Homo sapiens: one gene and its partner. The protein of the gene in region 1 interacts with the protein of each later gene in a pairwise test. Each region holds a gene or a part of one and is shown in the gene's direction. Other genes may lie near its edges.

Region 1 (11,724 bases):
GGGTAGGGAGGCGCGGCGCCGCCCCCGGGATATTTAACCCCAGCCTGGAGCCCGCCGGGCGCCGGACGCTCGGGCTCCTCGGCGCTCGCGCCTCCCCTCCCTCCTCCCGGCTGTCTCCCGGAGCGCCCCACCCTCCGCCCTGCGCTCGCCTCGCGCGCAGGCACCGGCCGGCGGGCGCGGGGAGCGGGGCGCGGCGGCGCTCGCCTCTGCGGAGCCGCCCCCTGGCCGCTGCCGCCGCGCACCGCCCAGCCCGCGCCGCCCGCGCCGCCCGGGCTCCAGCCGCCCCGCTGTCCGCCCTGAGTGCGCCGCGGCTGCCCGAGCGCCCCGCAGACGGGCGGGTGGCCGTGGACGCCCAGCCAGCAGCCCGCAGCATGGATTCGGATTCCGGGGAGCAGAGCGAGGGCGAGCCCGTGACCGCCGCAGGTACCTAGGGGCCGCGACGGCCCAGGCGGGTGGGCTGGGGCTGGGGAGGACGGGAGGCTGGGGCATGAAATCGGGAAGCCGATCCTCAGCAGCCCGACCCCTTCCAGGCCAAGACTGGGGATTGCTCCGCGTCGTGAGTTTGCTTTGGGGCTTCCCCCAACCCCATTGCACTTGGGCGCGCGGGAGGGAGGGAAGGTGCATTTAGGGGTGGCTCTCCTTGCTGCCAGTCTCCCGCGGCGGGCTCTGGTCGCCCGGGCTGGGTGGGGGCGGGGAAGGGTTCGGGAATCCGCGTACTGTAGTTTGCTGCAGAGAGGGTTGCAACACATCTGCCTTTTGAAATAACTTTCCGAGCGCGGGCCGGGTCCTCGAACCTGGGGCGCCGGGACTGCGCTGCGGCGCAGGTGACTGGGTCCAAGAACGTGACTGGGGGCTCTGAACAGAAAAGGCCTCGCGAGTGGTTGGGGCAGGGGTCAAACCACAGCTTGCGGCCGCGGTTCCCGAGGCTGCTAGGAGAGCCCATGCACAGGGTCCATCGCTGCCGCGCAGCCGGCGGAGAAGGTCCAGAAGGTCCCCGCGGACTGGTCCCCGAACACAGACGCAGGGGCGCGCGCCTCCCGACTTCGCCTTTAAGAGGCCCCGCCGGCTTTTCACAATCGATAGTTATTAAAGCAATAGGTGGATGCTTACTTAGGGAAGAAAAAAAATGAATGTCCTCCCCCGCCTCTCCCTGATACTGAGCAACAGGAGGAAGCCACCCACAGCCGTGGGTCGACTTGCCGCCGGTCTCTGCCCACCTCCACCGGTCCGCTCCGCCCCCCACCCACGGGTCTACGCACCTAGGACCCGCTCGCCCTCCTCACGTGCCCACAGCTCCCGGCGCTTGTGCAGCTCTGAAGGTTAGCTGTGGGCCTGCAGACCCGTGACCTGCGGGCTGGGACCCTCCTGTACAGACCGCGGCCCTGGCTAAGCCCCCACTCTTCCCAGTGTCACACTAGAGTACTGACGGTGGGGACCAAGTAACAGAAGGCACCATCAGTCCAGCCGTGGGTGTAGGAAAGAGAGGTTCGGGAACCAAGCAGGACAGTGCCCTGCGTATATTATTAATACCCTTTCATCCTCACAGCCCCTGGCCAGGCAGTTATTTTCATTTTACAGAGATTCCCATAGAGTAAAGGGCTTGCCCACTTCTCACAGCCAGGGAGTAGCCAGGACCCAGTGACGCCCTTCACCCTGCATCAGACCCCACAGAGGGTGGCTGTGGCCCGCACCTTTGGGTGGGTGGGAAGGGCCAAGGCTGGCGGAAAGGAAATGCCAAGATGCGTGTATTTAAGGATTCCTGTGTGTGTGCAAGTGCCACCTGCTTTGCCTAGGTATGATATAATTCATAAACATGAGCCCTTTGCATGCCTGTATGTTTCTGTGACTATAAAGTGCTGAGATTTTGCTTCACAGGTGACTTGTGGATCTCCTCTCATCATTTAAAAGTTCCAGTAGATGTTTTGTGTGTATCTATTTCGAGAGCGCAAGCGGGAAGGGGACATTGACCCTGACGCTTAACTCTCTCAAAATCCTAAGAACAACATTCTCTGTGCTCCCCTGCCCAACCCTCTATCTCTTCTTCTGGTTGAAGTTAAGGGGTTGAGGGAGAAGCGGGAGGAGGATAAGGAGGCTTAGAGAAAGAGGAAGGAAGAGAAGCCGGGGGCAGGGAGGAGAATCTTCAGAATCCCTGGTACTTGGGTGAAAGGGAAGGAAAAGAATTCTGCTGCACCCTGTTGTTTTCTCTCTCCAGCCTGACCCAGTGTTTAATATCCCTGTTGTATTCACGGTCAGTTTGTGTCAGAAGGCCTCTGCGTAGCTGACAGCAAACATCACTAAGGTCAGATGGGCCCCATGAAGAACAGGGCAGACAGCTCTCGTGAGCTGTCACTATTTGTTTGCACCTTACTGTTTTCTGCAGTTGTTTCTTCTTTCTGCGTGTGCTTGAATCTCACACGTTGAACATGTATTTTAATGTCACAAGCCATTCTGCTAAATGGCAGTCAGTCTCACGCATTATATTCCATCTTAAAGTATTCTCCTGTATGACAGTGCTTCAAAGCTGGATGTTAATTCACCACCTTGCTAGGGCTGCATCCTGTCAAATGGAAACCGTTGTTGCAGATTCAGATACAGGTTAGATAACAGGTGTGTTCTCCTTAGAGATTGACCTTTGTCTCTACAAGAAACTTGACATTCATCCATGGACCTGTATCTATGAAAGCTGAATGGGTGTAACTGAGAAGTACAGCAGAGTGAGTGGGACCTCTTGGAGTACTTATATGTGTGTGTGTACCTGCCTCACAGGGAGTTGAGACATAAGGGCTGCTTCCTCATCCATGCCTTTCCATTTCCTGAATTTATGAAAAAGCCCTGCCATAAGATGGACATTGTAAGTGTAAAAGGCTGGACTCTGGAATTGAACAGACCTGAGTTTCAGTCTGCACCTCATGGGCAAGTTATTTAACATCTCCAACCTCAGTTTCCCACTCTGTAAAATGAGGATAACAGTAGTACCACAGGGGTTTATGAAGATTCAGTATAATAACACGAGAGGTGTTCCTGGTAATCATTTAGTAAATGGTAGCTGTTATTTTGATTATTACCTGATTGGATTATTTGTTGTAAGAATACTGCTAAATAATGAACTCTAGTGTTTTAAAATATAAATGCATGTTTAAAACAATTAATGTTGCTGCTGTTATTATCACATTAATATAACTGCCTAAAGAGATTTGTTTTGAATTTTCTCCTTTTCAGTCTCTTGTTCATTATCTCTGGTGTGTGCACGTGTGTGTGTGTGTGTGTGTGTGTGTGTGTGTGTGTGTGTGCTTGAGGAGGTCTTTTTAGTTTACCTCTTCTCATCTTCATCCATCTTCCAGCACAAGGCATGAAGATGGGGATATTCCAACCTGCTGCTTTCACCAGCTTCTCCTATGCCTCTAGGGAAAGTTATAAAAAAAACAGAACCCCTTACTCAGTCCACCTGCTAATGTGGAGATGAAAGCGTTTCTTCTTTCATGGTGCTTCAAGTGGAAGAAGAGGAGGCAATCCCCTGCCCTCCACCTCCCACATTCCATTGGTAAACCTTTTCCCTTCAAGGTGGCAGGAACCATCATGGTCACCTTTCTAGTCACCTATTGGCAGAGGACAAAGACAACTCACTTTTTACTGTACTACTTTCAAGAGACTCTTCCAAAGTTCCCCCCACTTTGTGCGTGCAGAGCAGATCTCTCATAGAGCAACACGCTGCAGTGGAGGGTGGGGCGGAGGATGAAATTTGTCTCCATCTGCATTTTCTGTTTTTCAGGAAGCACAGAATGATGCTTCTATGTCATTGTGCTGCCTGCATTCTCCTCTGCCTTTCTGTCATTTTATGGATCTTTCTATGATTAGGGAAGAGGCAAGGTTTATGGAACACTGGATTCTTTCCAGAGACCCAACTTGGCACTCTTTCCTTTGGCAAACCCACCATCCATCTCTCAGAAATCCTAGAGCTTGGTGTATTCACTTGGGAGTGGTTAAGTCTTTCCTAAGAAGCAACAGGAGAGTAAACAGCGACGTCAGTTTTTTCCCCTTTCTGGCTTGGAAGATCAAGACAGCCTACCCAGCTGAGGGCAGATAAGCTCCTTCCTCCCACAAATAGATGGTCCAGGGCAATCAAGCTGATGGTGCCCTTGTGCCTGGGTCGGTGCTGCAGAAAAGCATTTCCATGTGATGGAGTCAGAATGTGGTAGGGGAACCACAAGAGAAAAACAGGACTGGGAAAACACCAGGCCCCTAACTCTGCCCTTCCTCTCCCTCTCCTCCCCTACATGCTTAGCTTGGTCCACATGAACCAACTGAAGGAATGGATAGGATTCAATAGGATCCTGTTGAGGAGGTGGCAGGTGAAAGGGAAAGACATTCCAGAAGTCATACAGCTTGAGAAAAGACACAAATAAACAGGAAGGCAGCTAGAGTAGAGGGCGCATACTGGGGAGTTCTGGGAGATAAAGCTAAGCGAGTACAGGGAGTAAGTTGGTCTTGGCAGGGCTTCTGGAGCCCCCATGATTCTTGAGCAGAGATGTGACCAAATGAAAGCTGAGTTTTCAGAATGTACATCTGGCAGAGATGGAGAGATGCAAGATTTGCCTGGACTTGGCACCTCAACTCCCAGGGTATGGCCACAACATCAGAGAAGGTAGTGGCACTAAGGCAAGATGGAAGAGGGAGGGTGCAAATGGCATTTCAGAGAAATCAACAACAGAAGTTGGTGACAGATTGTACAAAAGCAGTGAAAGGAGAGGGAGAGTTGAAGGAGACAGTGACATGTTGTGTTGGGTAACGTTCTCTGGAGGCAGGGAAATGCAGGAGACAGGCTCCCCCACCCCACAGACGCTGCCTCTTCCTTCAGGCACTTAGCAGTGGTGTTTGGGGTAAAGATTCTTTTCCCCTTTGACATTAAGTTTCTCAGGTGCATTAGTTTTGAGGCACTGTGAGGTTTGAGGGTTTGTTGATTCTCATTGCTAGGTTCCTTGCAGAGGCTGTTTAGTAATCTTTGTCTACTGACAGATTGAAGATAAATGGGCTGGCCTGCTAAGGGCAAGGACAGCCTGGGAATGATGTGCCATTTGGTTATTAGTCATATTCCCATTTCTTGTTCCTGTTTGTTGAAATTTGCACGGATCTCTGCCTCATCCACAGAGTAAGCTGTAGCTGCTTTCGGAGTCAGGACCTTGTCTTGTGCTTCTTCATGTTCCTGGGATTTTATGGACATAGTAAGTGAATGAGCATCTTGAGGAACCTCCTAAGAACTTTGCCCTAAAAGGCCAGACCAGCAGCCAGAAACCTGTCCTATAAAGTAGACAGGATGCCAAGGCTTTCCCTCAGTGTTTTGTTTTGTTTTAGTGTTTTAAGATTTCTGTACTGTCTGGGACTCTGTGTTAGGAATTATGGGAAATGCAAAGAGAGATAAGGACACAGTTCACCCTGTCCTCCAGGACTTGACATTGGATGAGGAGACAGGGTATGTCTACTGATGACCACAGCCTAAGCCAGTGCATGAAGACTCCTCACCTCCCTTACCTGGCATCATATCCACAACCACATATCCCTTGACACCAGCCCTTCCTATTGCATACTTTATGGTTATTCCTGTGCTGGACTGTTAGTTAGCTTCCTAAGGACAAGGACTGGGTCTTTTTCATCTGTATCAGCCCATGCCACCCATGTCCCCTAAGCATAGTGGCAGGTTGCTGGCTGAATAGGTAGGTGGGTGGGTGGGCGGATGGATGGATGGATGAATGGATGGTGTTGTGGGTTGGTTTGCTAGGAAGCAGACTGTGAGATGGAGGTCAGCAGCATGTACAAGGTTTATTTGGGACTTCTCTTGGAATTAATAACTGTAGAAGGCAAGGGAAAAAAGGGGGAAGGGAAGGGAGCAGGACTGGGCAGAGAAGCTGAGCTACCATGTAGACCCAACAGCCTCAGTTGAGCCCATGGGAACTCTGGAGCTAGAATGGCTCATCAGAACTATTCTGAGTTGGGGTGAGAGGCCAGGTCTTTATACCTTTACACCCCCAAAATAAGCAGTCATTAAAGGCAAGTCATTTCAAGGAACTAGGAATAACCTTGAGTGAGGCTGTTCCCTCCAGCTGAGGGCTTCTGCAGGTAGCACTACCAGCCACTTGTGGAGGAAGTCCTTTGTTCCTGAAGGGGAGTCCGTGCAGCACATGGCAGTGGTCACCACAGGTGGCCTCCACAGATCTTTAGGACTGTTTACTAGGGATGGCAGGCCTGTCTACCAGCAGAATTCAGGGGATAGTTGTTGAACTGCAAACTTTGTCTAGACCTCTTTGGGGCAGTTTCGGTTGCCAGATTAAAGTGGCCATTCTAGACCTCATAGCTCTGAATCCAACTGTTCAATCCACACAGTCCAGTAGATGCTGGCTGATCAGCTGTTTTGTGTTCAGAGTGGTGCCAGGTGCTGTGATAGTATACAGAAATGCATTTAGATGTGCTCCTGCCTTCCAGAGGTTTGTAGCCATATTGGGGAGAGAAAACCCACCTCAAACTGGATCTGTAAAACTGGGCAGCACCAGCAGTAATTGGTGCAGGATTTGGAGCATAGGGCAATGTGATTTGGAATTCTAGTGGGAAGGCTTCTTAAGGTGAAGACTGAGTGTATATGAATATATACATGGAAAGCTCTATTTCCTATGTTATTTTTCTCATAAAAAATACAGCACTTGCCTTTTTATTTGTCAACAAAGCTAAATTTTAGTCACACTTTCTATTAGCATAGTTCCCTAACTGGTTCATTTCCCTTCAGCATTACCCTTGGCTCCCATTCGAATTCACATGTAAATCTCTATAAAGACACTACATAAATAACTTTGTTTTGTTTTTCAGTCACTTGGCTTCCAACTCTTTATGTAAAATGCCTATGTAGGTGGATGTTTGGGCTGTATTCTATACAAATATAGAAATAAAAGGATAGAGAAGAAGAATTTAAAAGACAAGTTTCCTCTAAAAATCCAATCCAAAAAATCATATCAGGAGAGCAAATATCCTCCCCCTTCCCATATATATATATATATATATATAAAGGTATGCTAGAAAAATTTTATTTTATTACATATCAGAAATGTTCTTTTTAGGCAATGGCATGGGACAAATTCTGAGTCTGCTTTAGAACAATCTTCACGTTCATATTGGGTTTCCTAAGCATCATTGCCTGGGAATAAATTTGAGCCTGTTCATGGAAAATCTACCAGTGTGCATACTGTAAAAATGGAAGGCTTGGCAGCACAGAAAGTGCTAGACACACCCTAATAGAAACCAGTATTTTGTAACTCAGTTCTCTGGGAAAAAAAGGAGACACTTGGTGGTGTCCAATATTGCTTTAAACTATTGAAAAACCACAGGGGCAGCCACTGGCTTCTAGGTTGTGTTTCAGAAGTAAAATGTGCTTTCTGGGAAAATATTCTGGCCATGAAAGGAAGCATGTTAGCCATACGTAGCTTCATGGAGACTCCTGGTTTATATTTTTGTAGTAGAAGCATCCAGTTTCACATGAGGGAGGAGATTCTGGAAGGAGCTGTTGCTAGTGAGCACACACATCCCACACTCCTGATTTGGAGCCTGTGGGTTATGCTGGGAAGGTGGGCAAATACGAAGTCAAATACGGGAGGTAGGTGAGGGGAGCCATCTGCCCAGCAGGCCTCTGTGGCAGCTCTTTCCTGCCACAATTGAGTCATGGCTCCTTGGTTTCCTTTGGATAAGACTGAGAAAGTGAGGGTGGGAAGGCTGGGATTGGGGGTTACAGGATAAGAGAAACCAGGGTTTAAGAAATTGTGAGCTGGGTGCAGTGGCTCACGCCTGTAATCCCAGCACTTTGGGAGGCTGAGGCGGGTGGATCACCTGAGGTCAGAAGTTCAAGACCAGCCATCTCTACTAAAAATACAAAAATTAGCTGGGCATGGTGGTGCATGCCTGCAATCCTAGCTACTCGGGAGGCTGAGGCAGGAGAATTGCTTGAACTCGGGAGGCAGAAGTTGCAGTGAGCCTAGATCGTGCCACTGCACTCCAGCCTGGGCAAAAGAGAGACTCTGACTCCAAAAAAAAAAAAAGAAGTTGTAGCAAAACAAGATGAGAAATAAGATGGCATGATCCTTGCCAGCCCAAGGTCAGCCCCAGAGGGCTGTTACTGAACATAAAAGTATAATGATGTTTTACTTTTTATTTATCCTATATTAATTAAGCACTTACAATGTATTCGGGACTGGGTTAATTGTTTATATGGTAGTTGATCCTTATACCAGCCTTCTGGGCTATGTACTATAAATAGCCCCAATTTATAGAACAGAAAACCAAACACAGAGAGGTTAAGTAACCTGCTCAGGGTTGCACAGCTTGTCAGTAGAAATGAAGCCAGTCTAACTCCAGAGACTCTTCTCTTGCACCAGGTAGACTACGTAATTAGATTCACGGATGCCACCAGGCTGTCTTGCATCCCCCACACAGCTCCCACGGTTCCCAGAACCCTAACCCTTAGGCTCCCTCTGTTAGGTGAGGGCATTCTGCCTCCACAAAGGCCTGCTTTAAGCTGCAGACATTCCCTGCATTAGCCTATAAACAAAATGGGGAAGGACTGGCTGACTCCAGATCCAGATCAGGGGATGGTAAAGGGCGATCTGTGAGGGAAGATGGGAGAGTTAGCACAAAGCCACTGCTAGGCAGAAGGCCCTAGAAGGACGCTCCAGCCGTGGGCTTCTTCTGGATCACATGGGCCTGGTGAGAGAGGAGAGAAGAAGGTTTGAAAAGCAGAGTTAAGAGAGATACCAAAGTCAAATACACCCTTTTTCAAAGTGTGCTTAAGCTGGGTCCTAAGCCCTTTTTTTCACCCCAGCATTTAGAATCATTTCAGATATACAATCCCCAGGACATGGTGACCAGCAGGACTTGAGGAGAGAAAATTCAAAAGGTGAGAGTGCAACATAGTGAAAAGAACTTGACATTCAGAGCTGGATGACTCAGGTCTGTGTTTCAAGCATTGTCGCTTAGTTATTGCTTGTCAGTAACATTATTTTCTGACCAAAAAAGTGCAAGCTCATGGTAGAATATGTGAAAACAGTACAAGGAAGAAAATTAGATTGAGCCCTAAGAGAAGACTGCACTATTCCAAGAAGGTGGTCCAAAAGCAATTTGAAAAAGATGTGAGAGCTTTATTTAGGGAGAGAGGAGGGTTTAAAAAGAATGAGAGTCCTGTTTCTGAAATGTTGACCTGGGATGCTAAAAACATTTTGTTCCACTGTCAGGCAGTGTTAGAACCAGAACTGGAGGCCAGATCCCATGGCTTCTTTGTGTTTACCCCAAAACATGTAATTAAAAAAAAAAAAAAAAGAATCGGAGCTATTCCAGGTATTGAGATATCAAAAGGACTTTTGCTGTTTTTCCTTCTGACACCTTCTACTGTGTTCTTGCCACTCCCTCCCATCACCTGCATTTCCTTTCTTAGGTTTCTCCATCCTGGGCCCATTTGCCACAGGTCAGACCAGCACAGGCCCACGCTAGCACGTTGCCCAGGGGCCTCCTTCCCTTGGGTCAGGCCCACTTCTCTTTCTTAGTCAGAAGAGCCCTCCACAAAGCCCTCAGAAGATTAATGCATTTTTTTTTAATACTTGAGAGGCATTTGGTAGGTTTTACAGATGCCCAGTGACAATTGCAAAGGTTAATTTACTTTGAGCTTAAATAGCTACCAGCTTCAAGAAAAGTTTATTGGCCACTAGTTCTCCAATTACATTTTATCTTTCTTTAGATTGATTTTTTTTTTTATTGTAAAGAAACTGGCATGTTTGTTCATCCATGTTTGGTCTCTCTACCTTTAGGATTTAACTTCATAATTCGCTGAGTCAAACAACGCAGGCAGAGCTAAATTTATACAGGGTCAACTTTTAGAGAGCCCACAGCAGTATCTGGTAGGTATCAAACCTGAATTTTTGTGACTCTATTTTTCTTTGTTTCTAACTTCTCTGTGTATAATCCTGGTTTCTCTGTACCTTCTCAGTTGCTCCTCCTGCATCCCTCATTAATACCTTTTTCCTAACTATGTCCCTTAAGATGGAGCTCTTGCCTTGCTTTTTTCTGACAAAATACTTTATTAGAAAAGACCATCCATTCTTATAACAATAGCTGTAAGCTTTTGGGAAGCTAAAGGCTCCCAAAGTTGTACTCTAGCCCAGTCTTCTTTCCTGAGCAAGAATCCTGTCTTCTAAAGGCCCCGGACCCCTCCTCCTCACTGTTTAGGAGACACCCCAACACACCCACTCCAGGCCATCACCTTTCCCTCACTTTTTCCCAACTCTGCTGGTGGCCTTGACAGCCACCGAGTCACTCGAAGTTAAAAGACTGTGAAATCATAGAACAGTGAAAACTCCTCCACACATGTTCTCATAGCAAAACCATGACATGGATAAAGCAGGTATTATCATTCCTAGTTTACAGATGAAGAAACAGATGCAGAGAGATTAAATTATCCCAATCACAAAGTAAATGGCAGATTTTTGCTATTTAAAACTGGCCAGGGCGGGGGCAGAAACAAACCTAAATAAACAACTTGAATATTCAGTCAAATATTTATGGAATGATTAAATACATAATGACATTTCCACACAGTGGGATATTATTCAGATGTTAAGGAAAGTTAATTTGAAGAACATTTGATGATATAGGGAAATGTTCACATTATAACATTGTCAAAGAAGGCTCAATAATCTGTGATCCCTGTTTTTCTGTATGTACGTATATACATAAATGTGCATACACACACACACACACACACCCCTATACATCTACCCCTTTGTATATGGAGAGGGGGAGAAATCTCCCCTCACAGTCACACACGTAAACACTTGAGATTTTTTGTTAATGCTCGAGCAAAATAAACCACTCTGTGATGAGTGCATAGGTAATTTTAATTGTCTTCTTTGTAGTCTTCCAGATTTGTCTTCAGTGAGTACATGCAGCTTTCAGCTGGTAATTTGCTTTTATAAACAATAGCCAAGTGAGCTGCAGTGCCTGTTCCCCAGCTCATCCTCCTGCAGGCTTGTCCCAGGCCCCTCCGTCCTCTCCCTTGAAATTTGCTCTTCCATCAATTCCCTGTGTTCCAGTCCTCTGTGGCCCCCCTCACTGGCTCCGCCCAGCCCCCTGCCTGGGGTGATCCAGCCTTCTGCCCTGTTCACCCCCTGCCCTAGCCTCAGCCCTTGCTTTCTCTGGTGCCTCCACCCCCATCACCACCTCCTGCTCTGAGCCCACCTGGCCTAGCCTTTGTGGGCCTCCATGCCATGAACAGGGTCAGAGCTTGTAAATATGAGGCCTACAGACTGGCCAAGGACACTGCAGCATCCCAGTCTAAACGCACCCGTGGGTGAGCCTGTGGACTCAGCCATCTTGGCTTTCTTGAAACTCAGCGTCGCTGCTGCTCGCTGGCTGGCAGGGGGTCCACTTGGCAGCTCTGACCCACATGCCCTCTGCAACCCTTCCTCTGTCCTTGACCTCTATTCCAGATATGAGTGACATTCACTTCCCACATTTTCATTTACCTATACTAATTTTGTGTTTTTATTACTTTTTAAATTAGAGGGGGATACAACGACATTTAAAAGCCTGTTGTAACGGGATTGTTAGCTTTTAGGAGGTATTGGTCTGCCACCACCACCGTCAGTCCATCGTTCCAAAAAAATTTATTATTGAGGAGTGGTGTGATATTAAATATAATGTGAA
Region 2 (11,724 bases), on another chromosome or scaffold:
TGAACCTGGGAGGCAGAGGTTGCAGTGAGCCAAGATAGCACCACTGCACTCCAGCCTGGGTGACAGAGCGAGACTGTGTTTCAAAAAAAAAAAAGAAGGAGAAAGCAAAAAGAAAAAAGTGGGAGAAGATATTTTCAGTACTGTACATATATACAGTAGTGAAACTTGTATCCAGCGTATATAAATACCCTTACAAACCCTTACAAAATGAACATGATAGACAGCTCAATTTTAAAAAATGGCAAAAGAGGGCTGGGCGCGGTGGCTCATGCCTATAATCCTAGCACTTTGGGAGGCTGTGGCGGGCAGATTGCTTGAGGTCAGGAGTTCGAGACAAGCCTGGCCAGCATAGCGAAACCCTGTCTCTATTAAAAATACAAAAATTAGCTGGGCATGGTGGTGTGTTCCTGTAATCCCAGTTACTCGGGAGGCTGAGGCAGGAGAATCACTTGAACCTGGGAGGCAGAGGTTGCAGTGAGCTGAGATTGTGCCACTGCACTCCAGCCCGATGACAGAGGGAGACTCCATCTCAAAAAAAAAAAAAAAAAGCAAAATACATGAATAAGCATGCCACAAAAAAATCCATATATGTCCAAGGAGTATGTTAAATGATGCTCAACTTAATTAGTTATTTGGGAAAAGCAAATTAAACAATGCAACACCATTACATACCTGCCAGAATGGAAAAGATGAAAAAGAAAGTGCCAGATATTGACAAGGATCTCTTGCAAACTACAGATAGGAGTCTAAATTGGTACAATGACTTTGGAAAACCATTTGGCAGAATCTGTTAAAGCTAAATATATGAATGCTCTGTGACTCTATAGTTATACCCCTAAGTATGGAACCAGAAAAGTGTACATATGCATGTAGATATACATGCTCAAGTCTTATGTTCTTAGCAGTAGTTTTTTTTTTTCTTGAGACAGGGTCTTGCTCTGTTGCCCAGACTGAAGTGTGCAGTGGTGATCACAGCTCACTGCAGCCTCAAACTCCTGGGCTGAAGCAATCCTTCCACCTCAGCCTCCTGAGTAGCTAGGACTACAAGGGTACACCACCACGCCTGGCTGATTTTTCAATTTTTTGTAGAGATGAGGTCTCATTATGTTGCCTAGGCTGGTCTTGAACTCCTGGCATCAAGTGATCCTCCTGTCTTGGCCTCCCAAAGTGCTAGGATTACTGGCATAAGCCACCATGCCTGGCCTAGCAGCACTATTTTTGGTGGTCAAAAACTGGAAACAGGCCGGGTGTGGTGGTTCATACCTGTAATTCCAGCATTTTGGGAGGCTGAGGCAGGCAGATCACGTGAGCCCAAGAGTTCAAGACCAGACTAGGCAACATGACGAAACTCCCATCTCTATTAAAAATGCAGAAAATTAGCCAGCATGGTGGTGCGTGCCTATAGTCCCAGCTACCCATGAGGCTGAGATGGGAGGATCACCTGAGCCTGGGAGGTTGAGGCTACAGTGAACAGAGATGGTACCACTGCACTCCAACCTGGGGGACCAGAACGAGACCCTGTCTCAAGAAACACAAAACAAAACTGCAAACAGCTCAAATGTCCATCTTCTGTAGACAAGTAAATTTTGCTGTGTTTATACAATAGAATATTATCCAGCAATGCAAATGAACAAACTATAACTACACACAGCTGCATGGATAAATGTCAGAAACATGACGTTGAGTGTGAGAAGCCAGATGCAAACGAGGACTCACTGTGCAATTCTGTGCATGTACAGTGGCCAGGTGAGGCTTATGGAGTGCTGAAATGCTCTGTATCCCAATCTGGAGGGTGGTTTTAAAAAAATGTTTTGAGCCAGTGCGTTGGTTCACACCTGTAATTCCAGCACTTTGGGAGGCCAAGGTGGGCAGGTCACTTGAGGTCAGGAGTTCGAGACCAGCCTGGCCAACATGGTAAAACCCTGTCTCTACTAAAAATACAAAAATTAGCTGGGCATGGTGGCACACACCTGTAATCCCAGCTATTTACAAGGCTGAGGCACAGAGCAGGGCTCTGTCTCAAAAAAAAAAATCATAAATAAAAAATAAAATTTAAAAAATACTTGATTTTAATTTTTTTAGAGATGGGGGTCTCGCTGTGTCACTCAGGCTGGTCTTGAACTCTTGGGCTCAAGCAATCCTCTCACCTTGGCCTCCCAAAGTGCTGGGATTTCAGGTATAAACCACCACGCCTGGCCCTGGAGGGTGGTTATACTTGTGTAGTAAAAACTCATGAAACCTTACACTTATGATTTGTGGTAGACTTTTCTGTATTAATGTTATATATATATATATTTTTTTTTCTTTTTTAACCTTTTTTTGGTAGAGACGGGCCCTGCTAAGTTGCCCAGGCTGGTCTTGAACTCCTGTGCTCAAGTAATCCTCCCTCCCTGGCCTCCCAAAGTGCTAGGATTACAGGTGTGAGCCACTGCTCCCAGCCTAAATAAAAAGTTTGCTTCTCCCCTCCTTTTCTCCCCAAAAACCAGGGTGTTATCAGGAAATCTACTTAACTAGGCCTAGGTGAATTGCAATAGGTTGCATTATGCTAAAAGCAAATGTACAGGTTGGGGGGGTGTTGTTGTCAGCTCCGCCATGTCGTGGACCTGCCCCCTTTTCAGGACACCTCACGTCACCTTCCATAACAGAACAGGTAACGTGACATATGAGGTGCACTGTTGACAAGTGACACTGGTGACAAGTGAGGAGCACTGTTATCAATCTGGAAAGGAAATATAAGCATAGCTTTACTCATTTATTTATTTATTTTTTTAATTTATTTTTGAGACAGAGTCTTGCTCTGTCACCCAGGCTGGAGTGCAGTGGCGCAATCTCGGCTCACTGCAACCTCTGCCTCCTGGGTTCAAGCAATTTTCCTGCCTCAGCCTCCCAACTAGCTGGGATTACAGGCACCCGCCACTATGCCCAGCTAATTTTTTGTATTTTTAGTAGAGACAGGGTTTCACCACGTTGGCCAGGCTGGTCTCAAACTCCTGACCTCTTGATTTGCCCGCCTCGGCCTCCCAAAGTGCTGGGATTACAGATATGAGCCACCGTGCCCAGCCATTTCTTTCTTTATTTTTTTTTTTTTAGAGACAGGGTAATGCTCTTTGACTCAGGCTGGAGTGCAGTGGCATGATCATAGCTCACTGGAGGCTCAGACTCATAGGTTCAAGTGATCCTCCCACCTAAGCCTACTGAATAGCTGAGACTACAGGCACGCACCACCATACCTGGCTAATTTTTGTATTTTTTGTAGAGACAGAGTTTTGCCATGTTGGCCAGGCTGGTCTTAAACTCCTGGGCTCAAGTGATCTGCCTACCTCAGCCTCCTGAGTCACTGAGACTGTAGTTGTGTGCCACCATGCCAGGCTAACTTTTTTTTTTTGAGACATGGTCTCTCATTCTGTAGCCTAGACTGGAGAGCAGCAGTGGACCACAGCTCACTGCAGCCTCAACCTCCCTGGGCTCCAGCGACCCCCCAGCCTCAGCTTCCCAAGTAATTGGGACTACAGGCATGCGCCACTGTGTGCCACCCAAAAAATCTTAGCATACCGCGTAGCACAAAGGGAGCGTTCAGCACATGGGAGCTATTACCAGGCGTCTTAATCCATTTTGTGCTGCTGTTACAGATTACCACAGACTGGGTAATTTATAAAGAAAAGAAGTTTATTTGGCTCACAGTTCTGGAGACTGGGAAGTCCAAGAGCATGGTGCAAGTATCTGGTGAGGGTCATCCTGTGTGAGGCAGAAGGCTCACATGGTGAGCAAGTGCATGAGACAGACAGCATGGCAGCAGAACTCATCCTTTTGCCAGGAGCCCACGCCAGAGAAAACTAACCTACTCCATGACAATGGCATTAATCCATTCATGAGAGCAGAGCTCACATGGCCCAGTCACCCCTTATACTGTTAAACAATGGCAATTCAATTTCAACATGAGTTTTGGTGGGGACATTCAAACCATAGCACCAGGATCGTTAGTAGCCACATGATAAAATGTATGTCTTCAAGATTTGAAGACAATGGCATAAGGTCAGTGATCCAGCTGCTTGTACCCCTGACTTTTTCTGACCCTAGGAGAAGGGAGCACTGGCTTTGCTTTCATCAGGCCAAAGATGCCTTTCTTTGGGAATACGTTCAGTCCGAAGAAGACACCTCCTCGGAAGTCGGCATCTCTCTCCAACCTGCATTCTGTGAGTGTCGGTACTGGGGTCGGCCGGGTGTGCAGCATGAGTTGAGTGCTGAGCGTGTCTCTGAATGGAAAGTGTGGTCCTCCAGAGGCATCAGTGCAGGAGGGCATCCTTTCCGTCCATATCATTGCTATTGCGGAAAACATTTTTGAACTCTTGTTTGGGAATGATCGTCAGAGCTTGTTTATCCAAGAACCTAAGAAGACAATCTCATTATGATATTTGACCCCAAATATCCAAATTTTTTTTTTCTTTTTTGAGATGGAGTCTCACTCCCGTCCCACAGGCTAGGGTGCAGTGGCGCGATCTTGACTCACTGCAACCTCCACCTCCCGGGTTCAAGCGATTCTCCTTCCTCAGCCTCCTGAGTAGCTGGGATTACAACTGCCCGCCACCATGCCCGGCTAATTTTTGTACTTTTAGTAGAGACAGGGTTTCACCATGTTGGCCAGGCTGGTCTCGAACTGCTGATCTCAGGTGATCCACCCGCCTTGGCCTCCCCAAGTGCTAGGATTACAGGTGTGAGCCACTGTGCCCAGCCAGTATCATCCAATTTGACTTCTACTTTATTCTGTGACCTTTTCCTACAGAGCTAGCTATGCAGACTGGCCATGTCTTCACAGAAGGCGAGTGGGGTTGAACAACAAGGCTGTGGGGGCTGAGCATTCACTACAGGTTTCAGGTCTTAAGAGTCTGTTGTCTCCTGTTCCCAGTGAAAATCATGGTGGGGGCAGCCCCACTGTGGCCAGAGCTGGGCATTCTGTGGAGCAGGCCAGGCAGAGGCTTAGGATCTCAGTTTCTGGTGCCCCTAGGCCTGAGGCTCCCTTTCCTCTCTGCCATGTGTGAGAGATGCAGATACACCTGGCGGTCCCTCTAGGACATCCTCTGTCCTAATCCCACACAGCGTAAGAGCAGCAGTGTGCTTACATGACGTCTGTCTCTGACCGTGACTTGAAGTCGGTCCTCCCCTACATTGTTTTCCACATGCTGACAGGTACTTGTAAGCCTTGGTACTTGTAAGGCCTCCACAGCGCTCCATATGGTCACTGGTGGATTTTATTAGTTCCCCGTTATTACAGGATAACCACCCAGATCTTGGGAGCAGCACAAATGACCCTTGGTGGCCTCACTCCAGCTCTCCTTCCTGCCCTTGCCCTCTGCACACCCTGTGCTGCAGCCGCCCAAGCCCCGTGTGAACCTCCTCTGCGCACGCTACTCCTTCTGCCTAGAATGTTTAATTCTAGAATCTAGAATAGATTAATTAAAGAGCTATTGATTGATACCTTTCTATGTGCCAGGCACTCTCCTAAGCACTGGGCATGCAGAAGTGGATGAAGGAGGGGAGAGAAAAACATCAAATCCCTGCTTTCATGGGGCAGATACTTTAACGGAAGGCTACAGAAAATAAGCAAATTTATATCAGATGGTGATATGTGCCAGACAGCAAAACAAAGCATAGGCCTGGGATGGGGTGTGGCTGAGCACTGGGGACTGAGCTTTCATTTTCAACAGGGTGGTCAGGAAGGCCTAACTGAGAAAGGGACATTTGAGCACTTACCTGAAGGTCTCCCTGTGTTGAGCCGCTATTGAGGGCAGAGCTGGTCATACGCATCCCTGGATACCCAGTACCGAGTCCCGAATCGGGGTGGGTGCTCAGTGAGTTGTAGAAATGAATATCTAGGCCAGGCGCAGTGGCTCATGCCTGTAATCCCAGCACTTTAGGAGGCTGAGGTGGGCGCATCACTTGAGGTCAGGAGTTTGAGACCAGCCTGGCCAATGTGGCGAAACTCTGACTCTACTTTAAAAAATACAAAAATTAGGCCGGGCACGGTGGCTCACGTCTATAATCCCAGCACTTTGGGAGGCTGAGGTGGGCGGATCACAAGGTCAGGAGTTCGAGACCAGCCTGGCCAATATGGTGAAACCCTGTCTCTACTAAAAAATACAAAAATTAGCCAGGTGTGGTGGCGTGCGCCTGTAGTCCCAGCTACTCGGGAAGCTGAGGCAGAAGAGTTGCTTGAACCTGGGAGGCAGAGGTTGCAGTGAGCCAAGATTGTGCCACTGCACTCCAGCCTAGGCGAAAGAGTGAGACTCCGTCTCAAAAAAAACCCCAAAAATTAGCCGGGTATGGTGGTGCATGCCTGTAGTCCCAGCTATTCAGAGGCCGAGATGGGAGGATCACTTGAACCCGGGAGGCGGAGGCTGCAGTGAACTGAGATCGCACCACTGTACTCCAGCCTTGGTGAAAGAGCGAAACTCCGTCTCAAAAAAAAAAAAAAAGAAAAGAAAAGAATAGAATATGTAAATTGTACTGTCGCACGTTAAGAAGCAACTCCTCTTCCTCCTAATTGTTAGAATTTTATGTCTTTTCCACAACATATGTAGCTCCATATTAAGCAAATGATAACTTGGGGGACTATTACATTTAAAAAGAATTTTTCACTTGATTAACAGTTTATAGTAGGATTGCTTAAACTATTAAGTGTCAAGTAGGTATAAAATAATTCAATTTATAAATTTCAGTATATATAGCTTTTCTGGAAAACATCTAATGTATAAAACAGTATATTTTTTATCTCACAATTAAACTTTTCCTGTACATCATTTGATTTTATGGCTTTAAAAAAATCATTAAAGGTGCCAAGTAATGATTAGAGAAATGAGTTGTTGGGGTCATATTGTTGGCGGAAGAGGAGCTGGGATGAAGGCGTGTTCCGGGCCTGCTGAAGTTGTCACATAGCATCTCGCCCACAGTTGGATCGATCAACCCGGGAGGTGGAGCTGGGCTTGGAATACGGATCCCCGACTATGAACCTGGCAGGGCAAAGCCTGAAGTTTGAAAATGGCCAGTGGATAGCAGGTGAGCTGCACTTCCTGCCATTTTGTCAAACAAGATTGTAGGAGGAAATCCCCCTTTAACTGGTTCTGTCCTTCCTCCAGAGACAGGGGTTAGTGGCGGTGTGGACCGGAGGGAGGTTCAGCGCCTTCGCAGGCGGAACCAGCAGTTGGAGGAAGAGAACAATCTCTTGCGGCTGAAAGTGGACATCTTATTAGACATGGTGAGGCAGGTGATGGGGAAGAGAGGCCTAGCTTCTCCTTTTGGGGAGGCTCCACCTCGAGTCACTTAATCCAACAGATATCTCCTCAATGCCAGTTTGGCCAGGTACGTTGCTTTGCATCCAAAGCCACACGCAAGGAACAAGACACAGTTCCTGCCCTCACAGTGTAGAGGCAGGTGGACCGACCGTAAGCATAATTACATAAGGACCCAGTTGGAGTCTGCACAGGATCTGCACAGCACACGAGGGAGAAGTTATTTCTGTCAAGTCGGGAGAGCTTCCCAGAGGAAGGGATATCTGAGCTGAATGTGGAAGGATAATGGCAGGAATAGAGGTTAGATGAAGGCATTCCAGGAAGAGGGGTAGAGCCGGCTCATGGCTTGGAAGTGTCTCATACCAAGTAGGCATTAATCAGTGCCCAGTACAGACCAGCTGAGGGGCTCACACTGCATTAGTGTTGGTTTCTTGTGGCTGTTAAAAATCCAGCAACCCACTGGGCCTAGAGGAGCCTGTGAAGGTTCAGAGGCAGGAGAGCATACACTGTAGTGGTTAAGAGCACACACTCCAGAGCAAAATGGCCTGGGTTCCTCACCCAGCTCTGCTACTGACTAACTGCTCTGTAACTTAATTTCTTCAGCAATAAATGGCATAATAGCTAATTGTGGTGGTGCACCCCTGTAGTCCCAGCTACTTGGGAGGCTAAGACAGGAGGATGGCTTAACCTCAGGAGTTTGAGAGCAGCCTTGGCTGCAAAGTAAGATGCCATCTTTTTTTTTTTTTTAAAAAAGGACTAGGCTGGGCATGATGGCTCATGCCTGTAATCTTAGCATTTTGGGAGGCCAAGGTGGACGGGTCACAAGGTCAGGAGTTCGAGACCAGCCTGACCAACATGGTGAAACCTTGTCTCTACTAAAAATACAAAAATTAGCTGGGTGTGATGGCATGCGCCTATAATCCCAGCTACTCAGGAGGCTGAGGCAGGAGAATTGCTTGAACCCGGGAGGTGGAGGTTGCAGTGGGCTGAGATCGCGCCACTGTACTCTAGCCTGGGCAACAGAGTGAGACCCCATCTTGGAAAAAAAAAAAAGAAAAAGACTGACATTTTAGGCTGGATGTTTTTTTATTTTTATTTTTATTTATTTATTTATTTTAGACAGAGTCTCGCTCTGTAGCCTGGGCTGGAGTACAGTGGCATGATCTCCACCCACTGCCCCACTGCAACCTCTGCCTCCCGGGTTCAAGTGATTCTCCTGCATCAGCCTCCTGATTAGCACCCGCCACCACGCTTGGCTAATTTTTGCATTTTTAGTAGAGATGGGGTTTCACCATGTTGGCCAGGCTGGTCTCCAACGCCTGACCTCAAGTGATCTCCCTGTCTTGGCCTCCCAAAGTGCTGAGATTACAGGCATGAGCCACCACGCCCGGCCTGGATGTTTTTTTTTAAAAATGAGCATAATCGTAGTATCTACCTCATAGTGAGTTAGTACAAGAAAAGCACCCAGCCTGGCCGACAGAGCGAGACCGTGTCTCAGAAAACAAACAAACCAAAAAACAAAAACAAAAAAACCCTAAGGAGGAAAGTGGCATTCTATTTCTAGCATTTTTTCCCCTCATCCCCATTATGGGAGCTACAGCTTAGAATCAATTTCAGCTCTAATCCCTTAGCCTTACAATCACCAGTATCTGCCTTTGACGTCCTCTGAGACCTGCTCTCCTTCGTGCAGGGAGTGCCATGCCCTCGTGGGTGACAGCGTGCTGACAGAGTGGACTGTGAATATTCTTCAAGTACTTGTGGTCCTGGGTCATCAGGGGTTGCATTCTACCCAGTTACAGAGGGTTTCCCATCGAGGAAGCCAGCAGCATCAGAGAAGTGGCAGGGGGCCTTTCCTCCGTGTGTAGGGCCGGCCTTGCTAACCCGAAACATTTCCTAGAAATGTGCTGCTTGCTAACAGCCGCTGCTTCACTTTCAGCTTTCAGAGTCCACTGCTGAATCCCACTTAATGGAGAAGGAACTGGATGAACTGAGGATCAGCCGGAAGAGAAAATGAAGACCCCAGAGACATTTATTGGGGAGTAGGATGTGGCTGAGTGCTTTTTTTTTGGCCAGACTAGCGGATTCAGTCCTGGAAGAGAGTATCATATAATGAGACCCACAGGCACTGGCACCCTTGGGTTGGCAATAGAAGGTGACATGGAATGGAGAAAACCAAGATTCCAGATGGGGATAGTAACTAGAAGGTGCTTCAGATGCACTGCCTGCGGGTGCCAGTCTGAAAACCAGACCGCACAGAGGCCTGGGGCTGCTGATGAGCTTTTTGGTGCTCTCCACACACAAGCTCGCAAACACACATGTCCCAGAATAGCTCTGTTGGGTTGTGTTGGGAGAAGCGGCTGGAGTTCATTCTCTCACCCCCTTATGTTGGTGTTTGGCGTGTGACAGCAGTTCTACAGAGCTCTGTGTTGGGGTCATGGATGAGCGGCTCTCTTGGCTCTTAAAGGCAGGCCTCTCTCTTCTTGCCTTTAAAGAATCCTCCTTCCTCACACCTGGCCTCCTCTGGCTTCAGCTTCTCAGCAGCAAGCACCAGCCTTCCACAACAACACTATATTTTTATGCTACTTTCCTGTTTGCACTACTACTTTTTTATTAAACGATGTTAAATAATCTCTCTGTGACCAAAGTGACTAAAAAGAGAACCATGAGTTTCTCAAGAAGTAAATGGAGCTGGCCAGGCATGGTGGCTCACACCTGTAATCCCAGCACTTTGGGAGGCTGAGGTGGGCAGATCACCTGAGGTCAGGAGTTCGAGACCAGCCTGGCCAATAGAGTGAAACCTCGTCTCTACTAAAAATACAAAAATTAGCCAGGCGTGGTGGTGGGCACCTGTAGTCCCAGCTACTTGAGAGGCTGAGACAGGAGAATCGCTTGAACCCAGGAGGCAGAAGTTGCAGTGAGCCGAGATCATACCATTGTACTCCAGCCTGGGCGACAAGAGCGAGACTCCGTCTCCAAAAAAAAAGAATTAAATGGAGCCTGGCCAGGTGTGGTGGCACACACCTGTAATCCTAGCACTAGCACTTTGGGAGGCTGAGGCGGGCTGATTGCTTTAGCTCAGGAGTTCAAGACCAGCCTGGCAATAGCGAAACAAAATACAAAAAAAAAAAAAATTAGCTGGGCGTGGTGGTGCACACCTGTAGTCCCAGTCTCTCAGGAGGCTGAGATGGGAGGATCACTTTGAGCCCAGGGAGGTTGAGGCTGCAGTGAGCTGTGATTGCTCCACTGCACCCCAGTCTGGGTGACAGAGTAAGACCCTGTCTCAAAAAAAAAAAAAAAAAAAAAGTAACTGGAGCCTGGAGTCTAAGCCTCTGTTGTTCCATCAAAAGACAGAATTGGCCGGACGTGGTGGTTCACGCCTGTAATCCCAGCACGTTGGGAGGCTGAGGTGGGTGGATCGTCTGAGGTCAGGAGTTTGAGACCAGCCTGGCCAACATGGCAAAACCCCGTCTCTACTAAAAATACAAAAGAAAATTAGCTGGGTGTGGTAACACATGCCTGTAGTCCCAGCTACTTGGGAGGCTGAGGCAGGAGAATCACTTGAACCCGGGAGGCGGCCACTGCACTCCAGCCTGGGCGACAGAGCAAGACTCTGTCTCAAAAAAAAAAAAAAAAAAAAAAAGAATGTTTAGTGTGTGGGGAACTGTCACTCTTGTAGGAGAGCATTCCAGCTTTCCTGGGCATTGGCAGAGGCTGATGCCAAACAGAAACAGTCTCTCTGCTCAAAATTCGCCTGCCCTCCTGCTTCATGGTGTTGGGACTGGCCAGGACCTGGCAGGAACCTAATGGTTGGTGTGAGAATTTGTGCCGTAGGCAGTATGAGCTGGACTTTTCTGGCAAGAGGAGGGAATCCAGCTCCTGAAGTCAAGCGGGAAGGAACTGAGGGGGTGGAGGTGGGGGCATGGTGCCCAGGGCTTTAGACTAGGGACAGGCTACCATGGTTAGCCACTTCTGAATGCCCGGTACATGCCTGGCACCAGGCTCCCTTTGCTCTCACTGTCTCATTTCCCCTTCAGCTCAGCCCTGTGTAGCAGGGGCTATCGGCACATCCATCTGCAGAGAAGGAAACTCTGGGAGGTTCAGACACTGATCTAGGATCACACAGTAGAAGTGCTGGAGCTTGATTCACACAGCCCGCTATGAAAGAGAGGAGCTGGGGGCGGCCTCAAAGGGAGCTGCTGTCTGCAGTCCATCCTTACGGCCAGCAAAGCACTCTATGGGGGGGATGGATCGAAGGGCAGATTTGTAGCTCCAACCCATAACCTGACTTTCTGATACAGGAGAGAATGTTTAATACAGAAGAAATTGGAAAAGGATCCACATATATGCAAGGTGTAAATCTTCAGGTGCAGATAATAGGAGCAGTGGAGTTTGCTTATGCCTCGGCCGGTATCACTGGGGACCCTTTATTAATATTCCTGAT

The links.
Region 2: the proteins of TNFAIP8L3 (region 1) and CBY1 interact in binary tests that used the Homo sapiens proteins (3 or more experiments, as listed by UniProt).

What each region holds. Positions count from the first base shown.
Region 1 is NC_000015.10:51,083,243-51,094,966, reverse strand, and holds the start of TNFAIP8L3 (tumor necrosis factor alpha-induced protein 8-like protein 3), read left to right. Parts: upstream 1-60; 5' UTR 61-279; coding exon of another isoform or gene 280-371; coding exon 372-423; intron 424-11,724. UniProt on the Homo sapiens protein: Acts as a lipid transfer protein. Preferentially captures and shuttles two lipid second messengers, i.e., phosphatidylinositol 4,5- bisphosphate and phosphatidylinositol 3,4,5-trisphosphate and increases their levels in the plasma membrane.
Region 2 is NC_000022.11:38,663,940-38,675,663, forward strand, and holds the end of CBY1 (protein chibby homolog 1), read left to right. Parts: intron 1-1,606; exon of another isoform or gene 1,607-1,746; intron 1,747-4,077; 5' UTR 4,078-4,115; coding exon 4,116-4,193; intron 4,194-6,944; coding exon 6,945-7,050; intron 7,051-7,130; coding exon 7,131-7,249; intron 7,250-9,219; coding exon 9,220-9,297; 3' UTR 9,298-9,911; downstream 9,912-11,724. UniProt on the Homo sapiens protein: Inhibits the Wnt/Wingless pathway by binding to CTNNB1/beta-catenin and inhibiting beta-catenin-mediated transcriptional activation through competition with TCF/LEF transcription factors.